4 linked regions of the Homo sapiens genome follow. The protein of the gene in region 1 purifies or fractionates together with the protein of each later gene. This does not show direct contact. Each region holds a gene or a part of one and is shown in the gene's direction. Other genes may lie near its edges.

The links. The genes of interacting proteins can lie anywhere in the genome.
Region 2: the proteins of MFSD11 (region 1) and PLD2 purify together in Homo sapiens (affinity purification with mass spectrometry; one large-scale study listed by BioGRID and IntAct). This does not show direct contact.
Region 3: the proteins of MFSD11 (region 1) and AGPAT2 purify together in Homo sapiens (affinity purification with mass spectrometry; one large-scale study listed by BioGRID and IntAct). This does not show direct contact.
Region 4: the proteins of MFSD11 (region 1) and GNAO1 purify together in Homo sapiens (affinity purification with mass spectrometry; one large-scale study listed by BioGRID and IntAct). This does not show direct contact.

The regions. Positions count from the first base shown.
Region 1 is NC_000017.11:76,769,119-76,772,618, forward strand, and holds part of MFSD11 (UNC93-like protein MFSD11), read left to right. Parts: intron 1-627; coding exon 628-753; intron 754-3,500.
Region 2 is NC_000017.11:4,810,152-4,813,651, forward strand, and holds part of PLD2 (phospholipase D2), read left to right. Parts: intron 1-650; coding exon 651-800; intron 801-3,500.
Region 3 is NC_000009.12:136,675,051-136,677,457, reverse strand, and holds part of AGPAT2 (1-acyl-sn-glycerol-3-phosphate acyltransferase beta), read left to right. Parts: coding exon 1-35; intron 36-321; coding exon 322-497; intron 498-777; coding exon 778-873; intron 874-2,407. UniProt on the Homo sapiens protein: Converts 1-acyl-sn-glycerol-3-phosphate (lysophosphatidic acid or LPA) into 1,2-diacyl-sn-glycerol-3-phosphate (phosphatidic acid or PA) by incorporating an acyl moiety at the sn-2 position of the glycerol backbone.
Region 4 is NC_000016.10:56,330,989-56,334,488, forward strand, and holds part of GNAO1 (guanine nucleotide-binding protein G(o) subunit alpha), read left to right. Parts: intron 1-3,500. UniProt on the Homo sapiens protein: Guanine nucleotide-binding proteins (G proteins) function as transducers downstream of G protein-coupled receptors (GPCRs) in numerous signaling cascades.

The DNA.
Region 1 (3,500 bases):
ATAGGTTTTAACATAAGGATATCTGTTCATTTGAGTTGTATACTTTTACCTGAAATATATGGCAGATGCCGTCTTGTGGTATCTTAATTTTAGCTGCTATAACAAATTTCCATAGACTGTGTGGCTTAAACAACAGACACTTATTTCTCACAGTTCTGGAGGCTGGGAAGTCTGAGAGCAGGATGCCACCATGCGCAGCTTGTGGTGTGGGCTGTTCCTGGTTGTAGACAGCTGCCTTCTTGCTGTGTCCTCCCATGGCAGAGAGCAGACAGGAAGCAAGCTTTTTGTTGTCTCTATTTATAAGGGCACTAATCACATCGAGAGGGCTCCACCCTCATGGCCTAATTGCCTCCAAAAGGCCCCATCTCCAAATACCATCATGTTTTGGGGAATTTGAGTTTCAATATGTGAATCTGGGGAGGACACAAACATTTAGTCCATAGCATGAAGCTAATTCCATTTCATCAGTTACATCACATTATGCTCTGCTTGGGGATTAATATTTCAGTCTCTGTGAGTTTTATGTGTTTTACTACGCAAGTATTCTTTCGTCAGATACTACTAGATGGGAAGATAAACAAAAATGTGAATATATAAATGACATCTGTTTTTTTTCTTTAACTAAAGGTCTGGAATTAACTTTCTTCTCTGGTGTATATGGAACCTGTATTGGTGCTACAAATAAATTTGGAGCAGAAGAGAAAAGCCTTATTGGACTTTCTGGCATTTTCATCGGCATTGGAGAAATTTTAGGTTGGTTTTAAAAAAAAGCGTTTGCATTAAAAATATCAGTTTATTATAGGTAAAATAGAAATTTTAAGTGTGCTTCACCTTTGTCCTTGAATTTCTGTTTTTTCTACTTATTTTTACCCAAACGTGTGTTTTTATTTTTCTATTATTGCTATTCTTTTTCTTTTTTTTTTTTTTTTTCCAGACAGAGTCTCGCTCTGTCGCCGAGGCTAGAGTTGGAGTGCAGTGGTGCGATCTCAGCTCACTGCAAGCTCCGCCTCCCGGGTTCACGCCATTCTTCTGCCTCAGCCTCCCGAGTAGCTGGGACTACAGGCGCCCGCCACTATGCCCGGCTAATTTTTTTGTATTTTTAGTAGAGACGGGGTTTCACCGCATTAGCCAGGATGGTCTCGATCTCCTGACCTCATGATCCGCCCACCTCGGCCTCCCAAAGTGCTGGGATTACAGGTGTGAGCCACCATGCCCGGCCTATTATTGCTATTCTAATATAACTAAATTATAAAACATTTGCAAAATAATTCACAGATGGAAACCCTGTGTAAGAAAACATACAATGTCTCCCGACTTTTCCTCCTAAAATATTTAGAAAGTCTTGGAATTCCTGACTCTGGTTCTCTGATTCCCTGTCACCAACTGGGTGTCCAACAGCTCAATCCTGTTCTAACACTTAACTCTCCAAAGTTAGTGTCAGATTCCACAGGTTTAAGGGTTCAGTCCTACAGACAGACAGTCTGGGTCCATAGGCCTCTCAGGCACACCTCTCTGACTTGGGTACAAATTTGGAGGTTCCCATAGCCCTCTTCCCCCTTCATGTTTGATAATTTGCTAGAGCAACTCACAGAACTCAGGAAAATGCTCTCCTGACTATTAGAGTTTATTATAAAGGATACAGATGAGCAGCCTGATGAGGAGGTGCAAAGGGTGGGGTCTGAAAGGGTCCCTAAGTGCAGGAGCCTCTGTCTCCATGGATTTTGGGCTCACCACTCCAGAAGCTCCTCCAACCCTGTTTAGGGGGATTTATGGAGATCCTGTTACATAGGCATGCTTGATTAAATCATTGGCCACATGGCCGGGTGCAGTGGCTCATTCACTTTGGGAGGCCGAGGTGGGAGGATCACTTGAGCCCAGGAGTTCGAGATCAGCCTGGACAACATAAGGAGACCCTGTCTCTAACAACAACAAAAAAACAATCATTGGCCATTGGTGATTGATTTAATCTCCAGCCTTCCCTCCCTGAAGTGGGAGTGAAAGGGGCCTGGAAGTTCTAGCCCTCAGGGCTTGGTCTTTCTGGGAACCAGCCTCATCCTGAAGCTCTATCCTAGGCCAACCCCTCTCTCCCCAAGGGTTGCCCCCTTAGCGTAAACTTCAGTATGGTTGAAAGTGGCTCTTTCTGAATAACTAATGTCCCTCGTATCACTGAGGAAATTCCAGGCCTTTTAGGATTTCTGTGCCAAGAACTAGCAGCAAAGACCAAATATGTATTTTTATTATGCTCCACGAGTTATTCTTTGTTCAACAAAGATTTGTTCAGCACTTGCAGTATATTGAATATTGTGTTAGATATGAGGAACTTCAACAAAGGTTTATTGTAATCTGTCATGTCAACAAAATAGACAAAAATACCTGCCCATATAGAGCTTATATTCTTGAGGAAGAATACAGACAATAAAAACAGAAATCTTTGTATGTCAGGCAGTGGTAAGCACCATGGGTAAAGCGGACTTTGGAGGGTTTGTTTGTTTTTGCTTTTTGGCCCCTGCCTTATTGCCAACACCTGGAGCAGGACAAGGTCTATATTGGGCATCCAATAAATGAGTTAAATGTGTTGAATGAATAATGAGAACATGGTTTCAGCAGAACTTAGTAACCAGTTGCGTGGTGGTGTGAGGAGAGATGTCTAGAATGATGACCAGGTTGATCAGAGTAACCTGGGCAGAGAGAATGCTGTAGGAGATGGGGTTTGAGGAAATCTGCTGAATGGGATTTTGAACACCTCTAAGTACCAGAGAGGCACCCAAGTAGAGAAGTGTCCAGTGGGAAATGCAGGCTGATGCTCAGGAGGGACTCGTGGGCTGGAGGTTGATGTTGGGAGTTATGGGTATGTAAATGGCGGGCGAAGCTTAGCCATGGTGAGTCAGTGCAGGGTTGTCTTCTCTGGTAAGTGCTTGTTTAGTGTCTGCCTGTAGACTACCTGGGAAGAAACTCACTTTCTGTAGGCAACCTGCTTTTTTGAAAAAAATAATTTCAAATTGATAAGAAATTGCGAAAATAGGCCAGGCACAGTGCTCACGCCTATAATTCTAGCACTTTGGGGAGCTGAGGTGGGCAGATCGCTTGAGTTCAGGAGTTTGAGACCAGCCTGGGCAACATGGCAAAACCCCATCTCTACAAAAAAAGTACAAAAAAATTAGCCAGGTGTAGTGGCGTATGCCTGTCGTCCCAGCTACTTGGGAGGCTGAAGTGGGAGGTTGCAGTGAATCCAGATCACACCACTGCACTCCAGCCTGGGCCACAGAGCAAGATTCTGTCTCAAAAAAACCAAAAAACCAAAACAAAAAAAGAAATTGCAAAAATAAAAATAGTACAATGAACATCTGAATATCCTTTAACAGGATTCATCTATTGTTAACGCTCTACCTTAGTAACTTTTTTTTTTTTTTTTTTTTAAGGACAGAGTCTTGCTCTGTTGCCCAGGCTGGGGTGCAGTGGCTCGATCTTGGCTCACTGCAACCTTCGCTGCTGGGATTCAA
Region 2 (3,500 bases), about 72 Mb from region 1:
ATAGTTTTGAACCAGGAACTGGTCTAGCCAGATGCTTGGGACTGCTCTTAGACTGGGCCCAGAGAAAGGGGATTAGTAGAAGCCTGGGAAGGGAACTGCTGACATAAACGAAATTCCATTTGTTCATTTGTTCATTCAACAAACCCGAGTGCCTGGTACAATACTGGTTGCTGATGCAATACTAGGATCCAACTATGAGTAAGGTGGATATGGCCGGGCGCGGTGGCTCACACCTACAATCCCAGCACTTTGGGAGGCCGAGGCGGGTGGATCACCTGAGGTCAGGAGTTCGAGACCAGCCCAGCCAACATGCTAAAACCTTGTCTCTACTAAAAATACAAAAATTAGCCGGGCGTGGTGGTGCGTGCCTGTAATCCCAGCTATTTGGGAGGCTGAGGCAGGAGAATCGCTTGAAGCTGGGGTGCAGAGGTTGCAGTGAGCAGAGATCGCACCACTGCACTCCAGCCTGGGGGACAAGAGCTAAACTCTGTCTCAAAAATAAATAAATAAATAAGGCAGATACATACACGCCCTATCCCTGTGCAGTTGTGATTAGGGACTAAGGGAGGAAGTGGGAAAGGGGAGGTCTCTAGGCAAGATCACAGGTATGGAGGGCGAGGATTTATGGACATCTCATCGTTCCCATCCAGGTCCTTGATTCTCAAGTGCAGCAGCTACCGGCAGGCACGGTGGTGGGCCCAAGAGATCACTGAGCTGGCACAGGGCCCAGGCAGAGACTTCCTACAGCTGCACCGGCATGACAGCTACGCCCCACCCCGGCCTGGGACCTTGGCCCGGTGGTGAGACACTGACATCCCTTCTGAGCTTGTCTGTGGCTTTCTTGACCCCCTGTGTAATCTCTGAGTCCTTCATCCTCTCTTTTCTCATCTGAACCCTCCTGACCTCAATGACCCGCCCCGTGACTTCTTTAATCTTCCTGACCTTTGACATCTTTAACCACATTGATCTCTCTGATTTCGCGCCGACCTTTCTGACCCCCAAACTTGGTCATCTCTTCTGACCCTTGACCTCTCTAACCTCCTATAACCTTTTAAACCCCTCTCTACAATACTGACCCTCTCTGTTCTCCATGATCTTCTCAAATCTCTCTGATTTAGTCCTTCATTTAATAAACATTTTCTTTTCTTTTTTTTTTTTTTTTTTTTTGAGAGAGAGTTTTGTTCTGTTGATCTCGGCTCACTGCAACCTCCGCCTCCCAGGTTCAAGCGATTCTTCTGCCTCAGCCTCCCGAGTAGCCGGGATTACAGGCGCCCACCACCACACCTGGCTAATTTTTGTATTTTTAGTAGAGACGGGGGTTTCACCATGTTGGCCAGGCTCTTCTCGAACTCCTGACCTCGGGTGATCCGCCCGCCTCGGCCTCCCGAAGTGCTGGGATTACAGGCGTGAGCCACCGTGCCCAGCCTTAATAAACATTTTTCTAAGCACCTAGCAGTGCTGGCAGTAACACACAGTCCTCTCTGGGTTAGGGAAGTAGGTGATCAAATCGTGAAACAATGTGAACTTGCCGTACTGGTGATAGGTAGAAGGTGACACGCACAGACAGGAAGTACCTGGCCCAGCAGGGATATCAGGACAGGTTTCCAGGAGGTGGTGACCCTCAGGTAGTTTTGCTTTAAATCAGAGACTGACACAATATTAATTTTGTTGGTTTTTGTTGGAGACAGTGTCTTGCTCTGTCACCAGGCGTGTAGTGCAGTAGTGTGATCATGGCTCACGGCAACTTCAACCTCCCAGGCTCAAATCATCCTCCTGCCTCAGCCTCCCAAGTAGCTGAGACTACAGACACATGCCACCACACCCGGCTAATTAAAAACATTTTTTTTTACAAAAAATTTTAAAAATTAGACGGGTGTGGTCTCGAACTCCTGGGCTCAAGGGATCATCCTGCCTCGGCCTCCCCAAAGTGCTGGATTGCAGGCATGAGCGACAGTGCCTGGCCTATATACTTTTTTTTTTTTAAGGCAGAGTTTCGCTCTTGTTGCCCAGGCTAGCGTGCAGTGGCACAATCTCAGCTCACTGCAACCTCAGCCTCCCAGGTTCAAGGGATTCTCCTGCCTCAGCCTCCCAAGTAGCTGGGATCACAGGTGCATGCCACCACACCCAGCTAATTTTTGTTTTGGTTTTTTTTTTTTTTTTTTGAGATGGAGTCTGTCTCTGTCACCAGGCTGGAGTGCAGTGGCAGGATCCCACCTCACTGCAACCTCTGACTCCCCGGTTCAAGTGATTCTTCTGCCTCAGCCTCCTGAGTAGCTAGGATTACAGGCATATGCCACCATGTCCAGCTAATTTTTGTATTTTTAGTAGAGCCAGGGTTTCACCATGTTGGCCAGGATGGTCTCGATCTCCTGACTTCGTGATCTGCCCACCTCGGCCTCCCAAAGTGCTGGGATTACAGGCTTGAGCCACTGCACCTGGCTATAAACTTCTAAAACAGCCAAAACCAATCCACAGTGATGGAAATCAGATCAGCAGTTGCCTGTGGCAGGGTATGGGGAAATGATTGCCTATAGTGGGGCACACGAGGGAACATTCCAGGACGATAAAAATGTCCTATATTTTGATAGGACTGGTGATTGCGTGGGAACATACACTTGCTGATCCTCATGGAACTATACAAGATAAAGAAAATGCAGAACAGTCCAGGCACAGAAGACAGAAATAGCTCAGGGTGTTTGGGAACCACCAGGACATATTGTTGTTACTGAGTGAGGAGGAGCAGTCAGAGGAGAAGCTGGGAGTCAGTGGCACCTGATCTCACAGGGTCCCATGTGCTAATATCACAGGCACACAGGGCAGTCATGGAAGGAAGTTTTGTTTGTTCGTTTGTTTTGTTTTGGTTTGGTTTGGTTTTTGAGATGGAGTCTGGCTCTGTCGCCCAAGCTGGAGTGCAGTGGCGCGATACCAGCTCACTGCAGTCTCTGCCCCCTGGGTTCAAGCGATTCTCCTGCCTCGGCCTCCTGAGTAGCTGGGATTACAGGCGTGCACCACTATGCTCAGCTGATTTTTGTATTTTTAGTAGAGATAGGATTTCACCATGTTGGCCAGGCTGGTCACGAACTCCTGACCTTAAGTGATCCACCCGCTTCGGCTTCCCAAAGGGCTGGGATTACAGGCATGAGCCACCTTGCCCAGCCTTCCTGCATATTTTCACATGTGCATGCACGTGTTACTTTTGTTTCAACATAAATGAGATCATGCAACCTCTTCTGTGACTTATTTTTTCACTTAATACCTGTGTGAGAGATTAGACACTTATATTATTTCCCATTTTTCACTCTTACAAACAATGTGATGAACACAACATTTGCCTAGGCATTGTATTAGATGTATTCCTAGACATGTAATTACCATGTATATTTAATGATATTAAAGGGTATATGCATTTAATATTTTGATACTGCTGACCAGTCGCTTTGGCTCATGCCTGTAATCCCAGCACTTTGGGAGGCCGAGGCGGGTAGATCATTGGGGTCAGG
Region 3 (2,407 bases), on another chromosome or scaffold:
CGTCTCCAACCACCAGAGCATCCTGGACATGATGGGTAGGCCGGGCCTCGGGGGTGGCTTCTGGGGTTTGAGTGGGGCCGGCTGAGCTGGGGCTGTGTGGGGCTGGGTCCCGGGGACGAGGACACAGGGCTGCCTGTGCCTGGGCGAGCTCGGCCTCAGTACCTCCCTCAGGGCCAGACACAGAGGCTCGGAGGCCACACGACCCGTCCAGGTAGCCAGGGAGAAGGCAGGGTGCCAGGCAGGCCTGTGGGTGCTCAGCAGCTGTCTTCCAGCGCACGCTGTCTCCCCCTCTCTCTCTGTCTCTGTCTCTCTGTCTCCCAGGCCTCATGGAGGTCCTTCCGGAGCGCTGCGTGCAGATCGCCAAGCGGGAGCTGCTCTTCCTGGGGCCCGTGGGCCTCATCATGTACCTCGGGGGCGTCTTCTTCATCAACCGGCAGCGCTCTAGCACTGCCATGACAGTGATGGCCGACCTGGGCGAGCGCATGGTCAGGGAGAACGTGAGTGTGCAGGGCCGGGCTCGGTGGGGTTGGGGTGGGGCCTGGGCGGGGCCAGGCAGGGGCCAGCTTGTGACTTGGTTTTGGCAGAAAAAACAAGACCCCCACATCATCCATGCTCCGCAGGTGGGGTCCCACGCCAGACCCCTACATCATCCATGCTCCGCAGATGGGGTCCCATGCCAGCTGCTTTGCGAAGTGGGGCTTCTTAGGAGGCGAGGCGGCGTGGCCTTTCTGGGGTGGCCTGGGCGTGAGGTCAGTCCAGGCTCTCCTCTCCCTGCAGCTCAAAGTGTGGATCTATCCCGAGGGTACTCGCAACGACAATGGGGACCTGCTGCCTTTTAAGAAGGGCGCCTTCTACCTGGCAGTCCAGGCACAGGTAGGCTGAGCCCAGCCCTCCCTGGGTGGGTGCAGGCTGGGGAGGCGGGGTCAGGCTGGCTTAAGGCAGCAGGTGACCACCAGCCGAGCTGAGGACCCTTGACACACAAGGGACTCCTCCCACTGAGTTGGGGACAGGGCCTCCTTGCCCCTTCCTGCACTTGCCCCCTGACCGACCAGGGAGGGCAGCCCCTTGGGCCTTTTGCCCACACAGAGCCCAGAGTGACCAGCTGCCCTTGGTGGGCACCCAGTGCTTGGCCTGCGAGGCTGGGCAGGTAGAGGGGTGGGGAGCCGGGCCGCTCGCCTCTGCTGCAGAGCTCTCAGGAGGCTCATTTCTGGGCCTGTGCCTGGCTGGGGTGGGCTTCAGGGCATGGGCAGTGGGTCTGGACAAGCCAGGCTTTTGGTGTAGTATCAGGCCAGACCAGAGCTCAGGGTGGGTGGAGCTCATTGTAAGCAGCGCCTCCAGACTCTGGACTTCCTGGTCCCCAGCCTCCAGGGGTGCAGTGCATCCTAGGGTGTCTGGGAGAGGCCAGGGTATAGCCATTCCCCCAGCACCTGTCCTGCCTCTGCCGCTGTGCTGGGAAGAGTTGCGTCAGGAGAAGGAGCTTTTACCCATCTGGGTGGGGTCTCGCTCAGGGCAGGGGTCTCAGCTCCTTCCCTCACACTGGCCACTAGTGGCCCCCAGTGCCTGGCCCTGTGCAAGGTGGTGGGGAGGGGGCCCTCCTTCCAGAGGCTCCCAGCTAAGGCCGTGAGGCCTGGGGAGCCCCGGAGGCGCTGGGCTGGGTGAGCATCCTTGGGCTCTGATCCCAGCCCTGCCCAGGTGCGGGGCACACCTGCCCAGCCTGGGGCTGATGTCACTTCCCTTTGGGGGCAGAGTGAGGGCTGGATCAGCTCTGGGAGAGCAGAGGGGAGACGGGCGGCTGTGATGGGGTGGCTGGGGGTGGCCGCAGTGCAGCTTCAGCCAGGAGACCCACAGCTTTTCCGTCCCTGCTCCCGGTCCCCAGCCTACCTGCTGGCCCCCTCCCTCCCTGCTGCCAGTCCCCAGCCTACCTGCTGGCCCCCTCCCTCCCTGCTCCCAGTCCCCAGCCTACCTGCTGGCCTCCTCCCTCCCTGCTGCCAGTCCCCAGCCTACCTGCTGGCCTCCTCCCTTCCTGCTGCCAGTCCCCAGCCTACCTGCTGGCCCCCTCCCTCCCTGCTCCCAGTCCCCAGCCTACCTGCTGGCCCCCTCCCTTCCTGCTGCCAGTCCCCAGCCTACCTGCTGGCCCCCTGGAGGTTCCCTGGCTGCCTCGGGTTAATGATCACCCCCAAGTGCCCTTGGATTTGACCCCGGTGACTTCCAGGAACACCAGCAGGCTCCACCCCTCCCCCGGGCTAGGGCTGCCTCCCTCACTGGCTTCCTGAGATGGAGAGGACTGGGAGAGAGGCGTGGGCAGGGAAGAGTGCCATAATCTCCTCCTAAACCGGACAGGGCCCTGCCCCCCTGGCTAGCTGCAGACCCAATATGGGGACAGGTGTGAACCAGGCAAACACGTGCT
Region 4 (3,500 bases), on another chromosome or scaffold:
ACATTTCCTGTCTTAGCAGTTAGACCTCAGCTTCTGACAAAGTCTTGGGCCCAGTATAGAAAGCAGATCAGAGTAGGTTTGTTGTGCTGGAAAGGAGAGGGAGGACTCACAGGGCTGCCACAGCACGTGCTTCCAGGGGGTGCCATTGACACCCTAATGCCCCAACCACCAAAGCACTTCTCTGCCCAGCCCTTTACAGGGGAGGGACCAGGGCACAGGCTCCTGAGCAGGCTCTTGGTGCACCCCGGCCTCTGTGAACAGGGCTGGCTCTCCCTTCTGGATAACTACCTAGAGGCAGGTCCCAGAAACCCTGGGCACATCCAACCAGGGGCTGTGAAAGGTGCTCTGGGGCCTGGTTGGCATTGGCTTTCCTCAAATCCAGTTCCCCACTGAGTTGTCCATGCTGGCGTCCGACGTTTCCTCTCCTCACCTTCTCTCTTGACCCCACTCCTATCGAGCTCTTGCTCCTCCGCCTGCTGAGATGGCTCATAGCCCAGTCCTATCCTGGGGGCTGCTCCATCAGCCTCCTCCCACTCAGGGTTCAGGGTTCAGTCCCCTAGTACCTGGTACCTCCTTTCACTCCCAGCCCCCGCCTCCTCTCGGGCCGCCCTTTCCAGACTCCCTCGATGCCTCCTGCCCACCCACCCAGGCAACTGGTGATGGGGGAGGTCTGCTGGGGGCTGCTGTATCCCGTCCCCAAGCTCCATCCCAGAAGCACCTCCTCTCAAGGCCTGGTGCCTGGTGACCTTCTCCTGTCTCGTTTTAAACACCTTGTACACTTGGACAACTCTCAAATTCATATCGCCAGCCCAGCCCTCCCTCCTGACTTCTGCCTACTCAGTGCCTGTTTGGACATCAAATGAGTCTCAAGTTAACATGAGCCCGTGGAACCCCTGGCTCCCATCCTCCCACTAGAAGCTGCTCTGTGTGCTCCTCCCTCCCTCTAAATGTGTCTCATTCCACCACGTGGAGGTATCTCTACTTCTGCTCGTCCTCCTGTATCCCACACCGAGGCCACCAGCAGATGCAGCTCCCCTGGCAGGTACATCAGATTCTGACCACTCACACCCTCCACAGCCACCCCCACTGTGCCAGTGCCATCTGGTGACGACAGCAGCTCTGCAGGCCCCACCCGCTGACCTGCTCTCATGGCAGCAACAGGGCCGTTGTCAACATGCTTCTGGCCAGAACCCTCGAGGGGCTCCCATCTCACTCAGAGCAAAAGCTCAAGCCCTGACAATGACCTCAAGGGCCTGCTTGCCCCAGCCGGACTCTGGCCACCCTCACCTCCACCACCTTCCCCAGCCTCACCCACCACCTGGCCCCTCCACGTGTGCTTCCTGCCGCCATGCCTGCCAGTGTTTCCACTGGGCCACTCGAGGCCCACTTGCTCCCTCATTCCCCTCAGTCTCCCCTATCCAGACGCCTTCCCCAACCACCCTGCATCAAATAGCAGCCCCCAGCAGCTCTCCCCCATCACTAATAGCCTGATTCGTTCTCTCACACTACCTCCTGACATATCATCTCTCTGACTCTTCTGTTTACCACCTCACACACGTGTGCACACTCACTTGGAACACAGGCCCTGGGAAGGTGGGGCTGTGTCGACTGCCCCATCCCCAGCTCCTGGAACAGTGGCTAGGTGGGATGGACAGCAGGTGCACAGTCAGCCTTCCCGACTGGGTTGTTAAGCAGTTCTCCCACACCTTGCCCACCCTCCACAGCCGTCTCCTTGCATGAGGCTCGGCCAGCACAGAGAGGCCAGAGGGCCAGGTTGCCCATCTAAAGGAGGTTTGCCCTGGCTGGGAAAGGAAGAGCAGGACCAAACGCTTCCAGGCTGGTGTCCAGCTGCAGATGACAGCAGAGGGCGTCCTCACAGCTTGGAAGCAGAGGTCATGGGCGCCAGGGCGGGGCAGGCACAGAGGCTTGGGAGAGGCTCCTTCTGGCTGAGACCAGAGCCTGCCCAGATGCCACTGGCTGGCGAGGAGGCTGTGAGGCCGGGGGCGTGTACAGGTCTGCTCTGCAGCCTCGGCTCTCTCACCCCATCCCCACACCGTTCCTGTCCACGGAGGGCAGTCAGGCTCAGGAGAGGAGGCCAGGAGTCCTGTTTAAATTTTTTTTCTGGATTTTTAAAATGCTGATGATGTCCAGTTTAAGAGCGTGGGGTCTGGAGCCAGTCAGAACTGGGCTGGAATCCCAGCCAAGTGCATTTTCTTTTTTTCTTTTTTTTTTTTTTCTCCCCGAGACAGAGTCTTGCTCTGTCACCCAGGCTGGAGTACAGTGGCACGATCTCAACTCACTGCAACCTCCGCCTCCTGGGTTGAAGCGATTCTCCTGCCTCAGCCTCCTGAGTGCTGGGATTATAGGCACCTGCCACCAGGCCCAGCTAATTTTTGCATTTTTAGTAGAGATGGGGTTTCACCATGTTGGCCAGGATGGTCTCAAAATCCTGACCTCATGATCCGCCCACCTTGGCCTCCCAAAGTGCTGGGATTACAGGCGTGAGCCACCGCACCCGGCTGCCAAGTTCATTTTCTCGCAGTGTGACTTCAAGCTTACCTCCCTGAGCCTTGGAAGCCACCCTTCTGTTTTCTTTTCTTAGGGGCATTCTCACAAGGATTGTCACTGGGTTCTATCAGTGAACACCCTAGCTGGCGAAGTCATCTGCCCTTTCCAGCCCTGTGGACATCCATGAGCTGGTCAGCATGCCCATCTCTCATGCAGTGGTAACTGCAGGTCCAGCCAGCAAGCTGGCCCCCAGCAGGTCCTGGAGCAGATGCAGCCTGGGACCCCACATCGTTCTGTGGTTCAGACACTTGGGGCTCCTCCCTGTGGGCTGCTTGTGGTTTGCCCCGGCAGCAGGGATGGGTGGCCTGGCAGGCTCCATGGATCACTGAGTCTTCCTTCAGGCCTGGCCCAGCTCCCCACTTCCTGATTTCCCAGATCCTACCCTGGCTTTAGGTTCAAACTTAACCCACAATGAACCCCAAAGCCCTTGCAGGCAGCGTCCTCTGAGTGCTTGGCCTGAGGCCTGGGCAGGTGACTTGCAAAAGCCTGGTCTGTCCCCACAGCAGGAGGTAGCAGGGGTAAAGAGCCCTGATTCCAAAGACCGGGTCCCAGGGAGGCCCAGCCGCTGTATGGCTGTGCAGCCCTGAGCCTCCAAGAGCATCAAATTGGAAGGGGCACACAGACCCCTTGGTAAGTGAGAAGGAAGTGTGGAGAAGGCAGGGAACTGCTCAGGGGCCGCTGAAGCCCCAGACAGTAATAAAATTATGGCCTCTGGAGCCAAGGGTCCGGGTCACAGCCTCAGGCAAGGTACTTACCTTCGATGAGCCCCAGTTTTAGTACATTTAACTCAGGGAAATTACACATGAAACATGGTTACACATGCAAAGAATAGAACCTATCTGTTGGCCATTATTATCTTTTAAATGAAAAAATGACAAAACAGTATTATAATAAACATGGTAGTCTCATATAAAAGCTTGATCTTGTCTGAG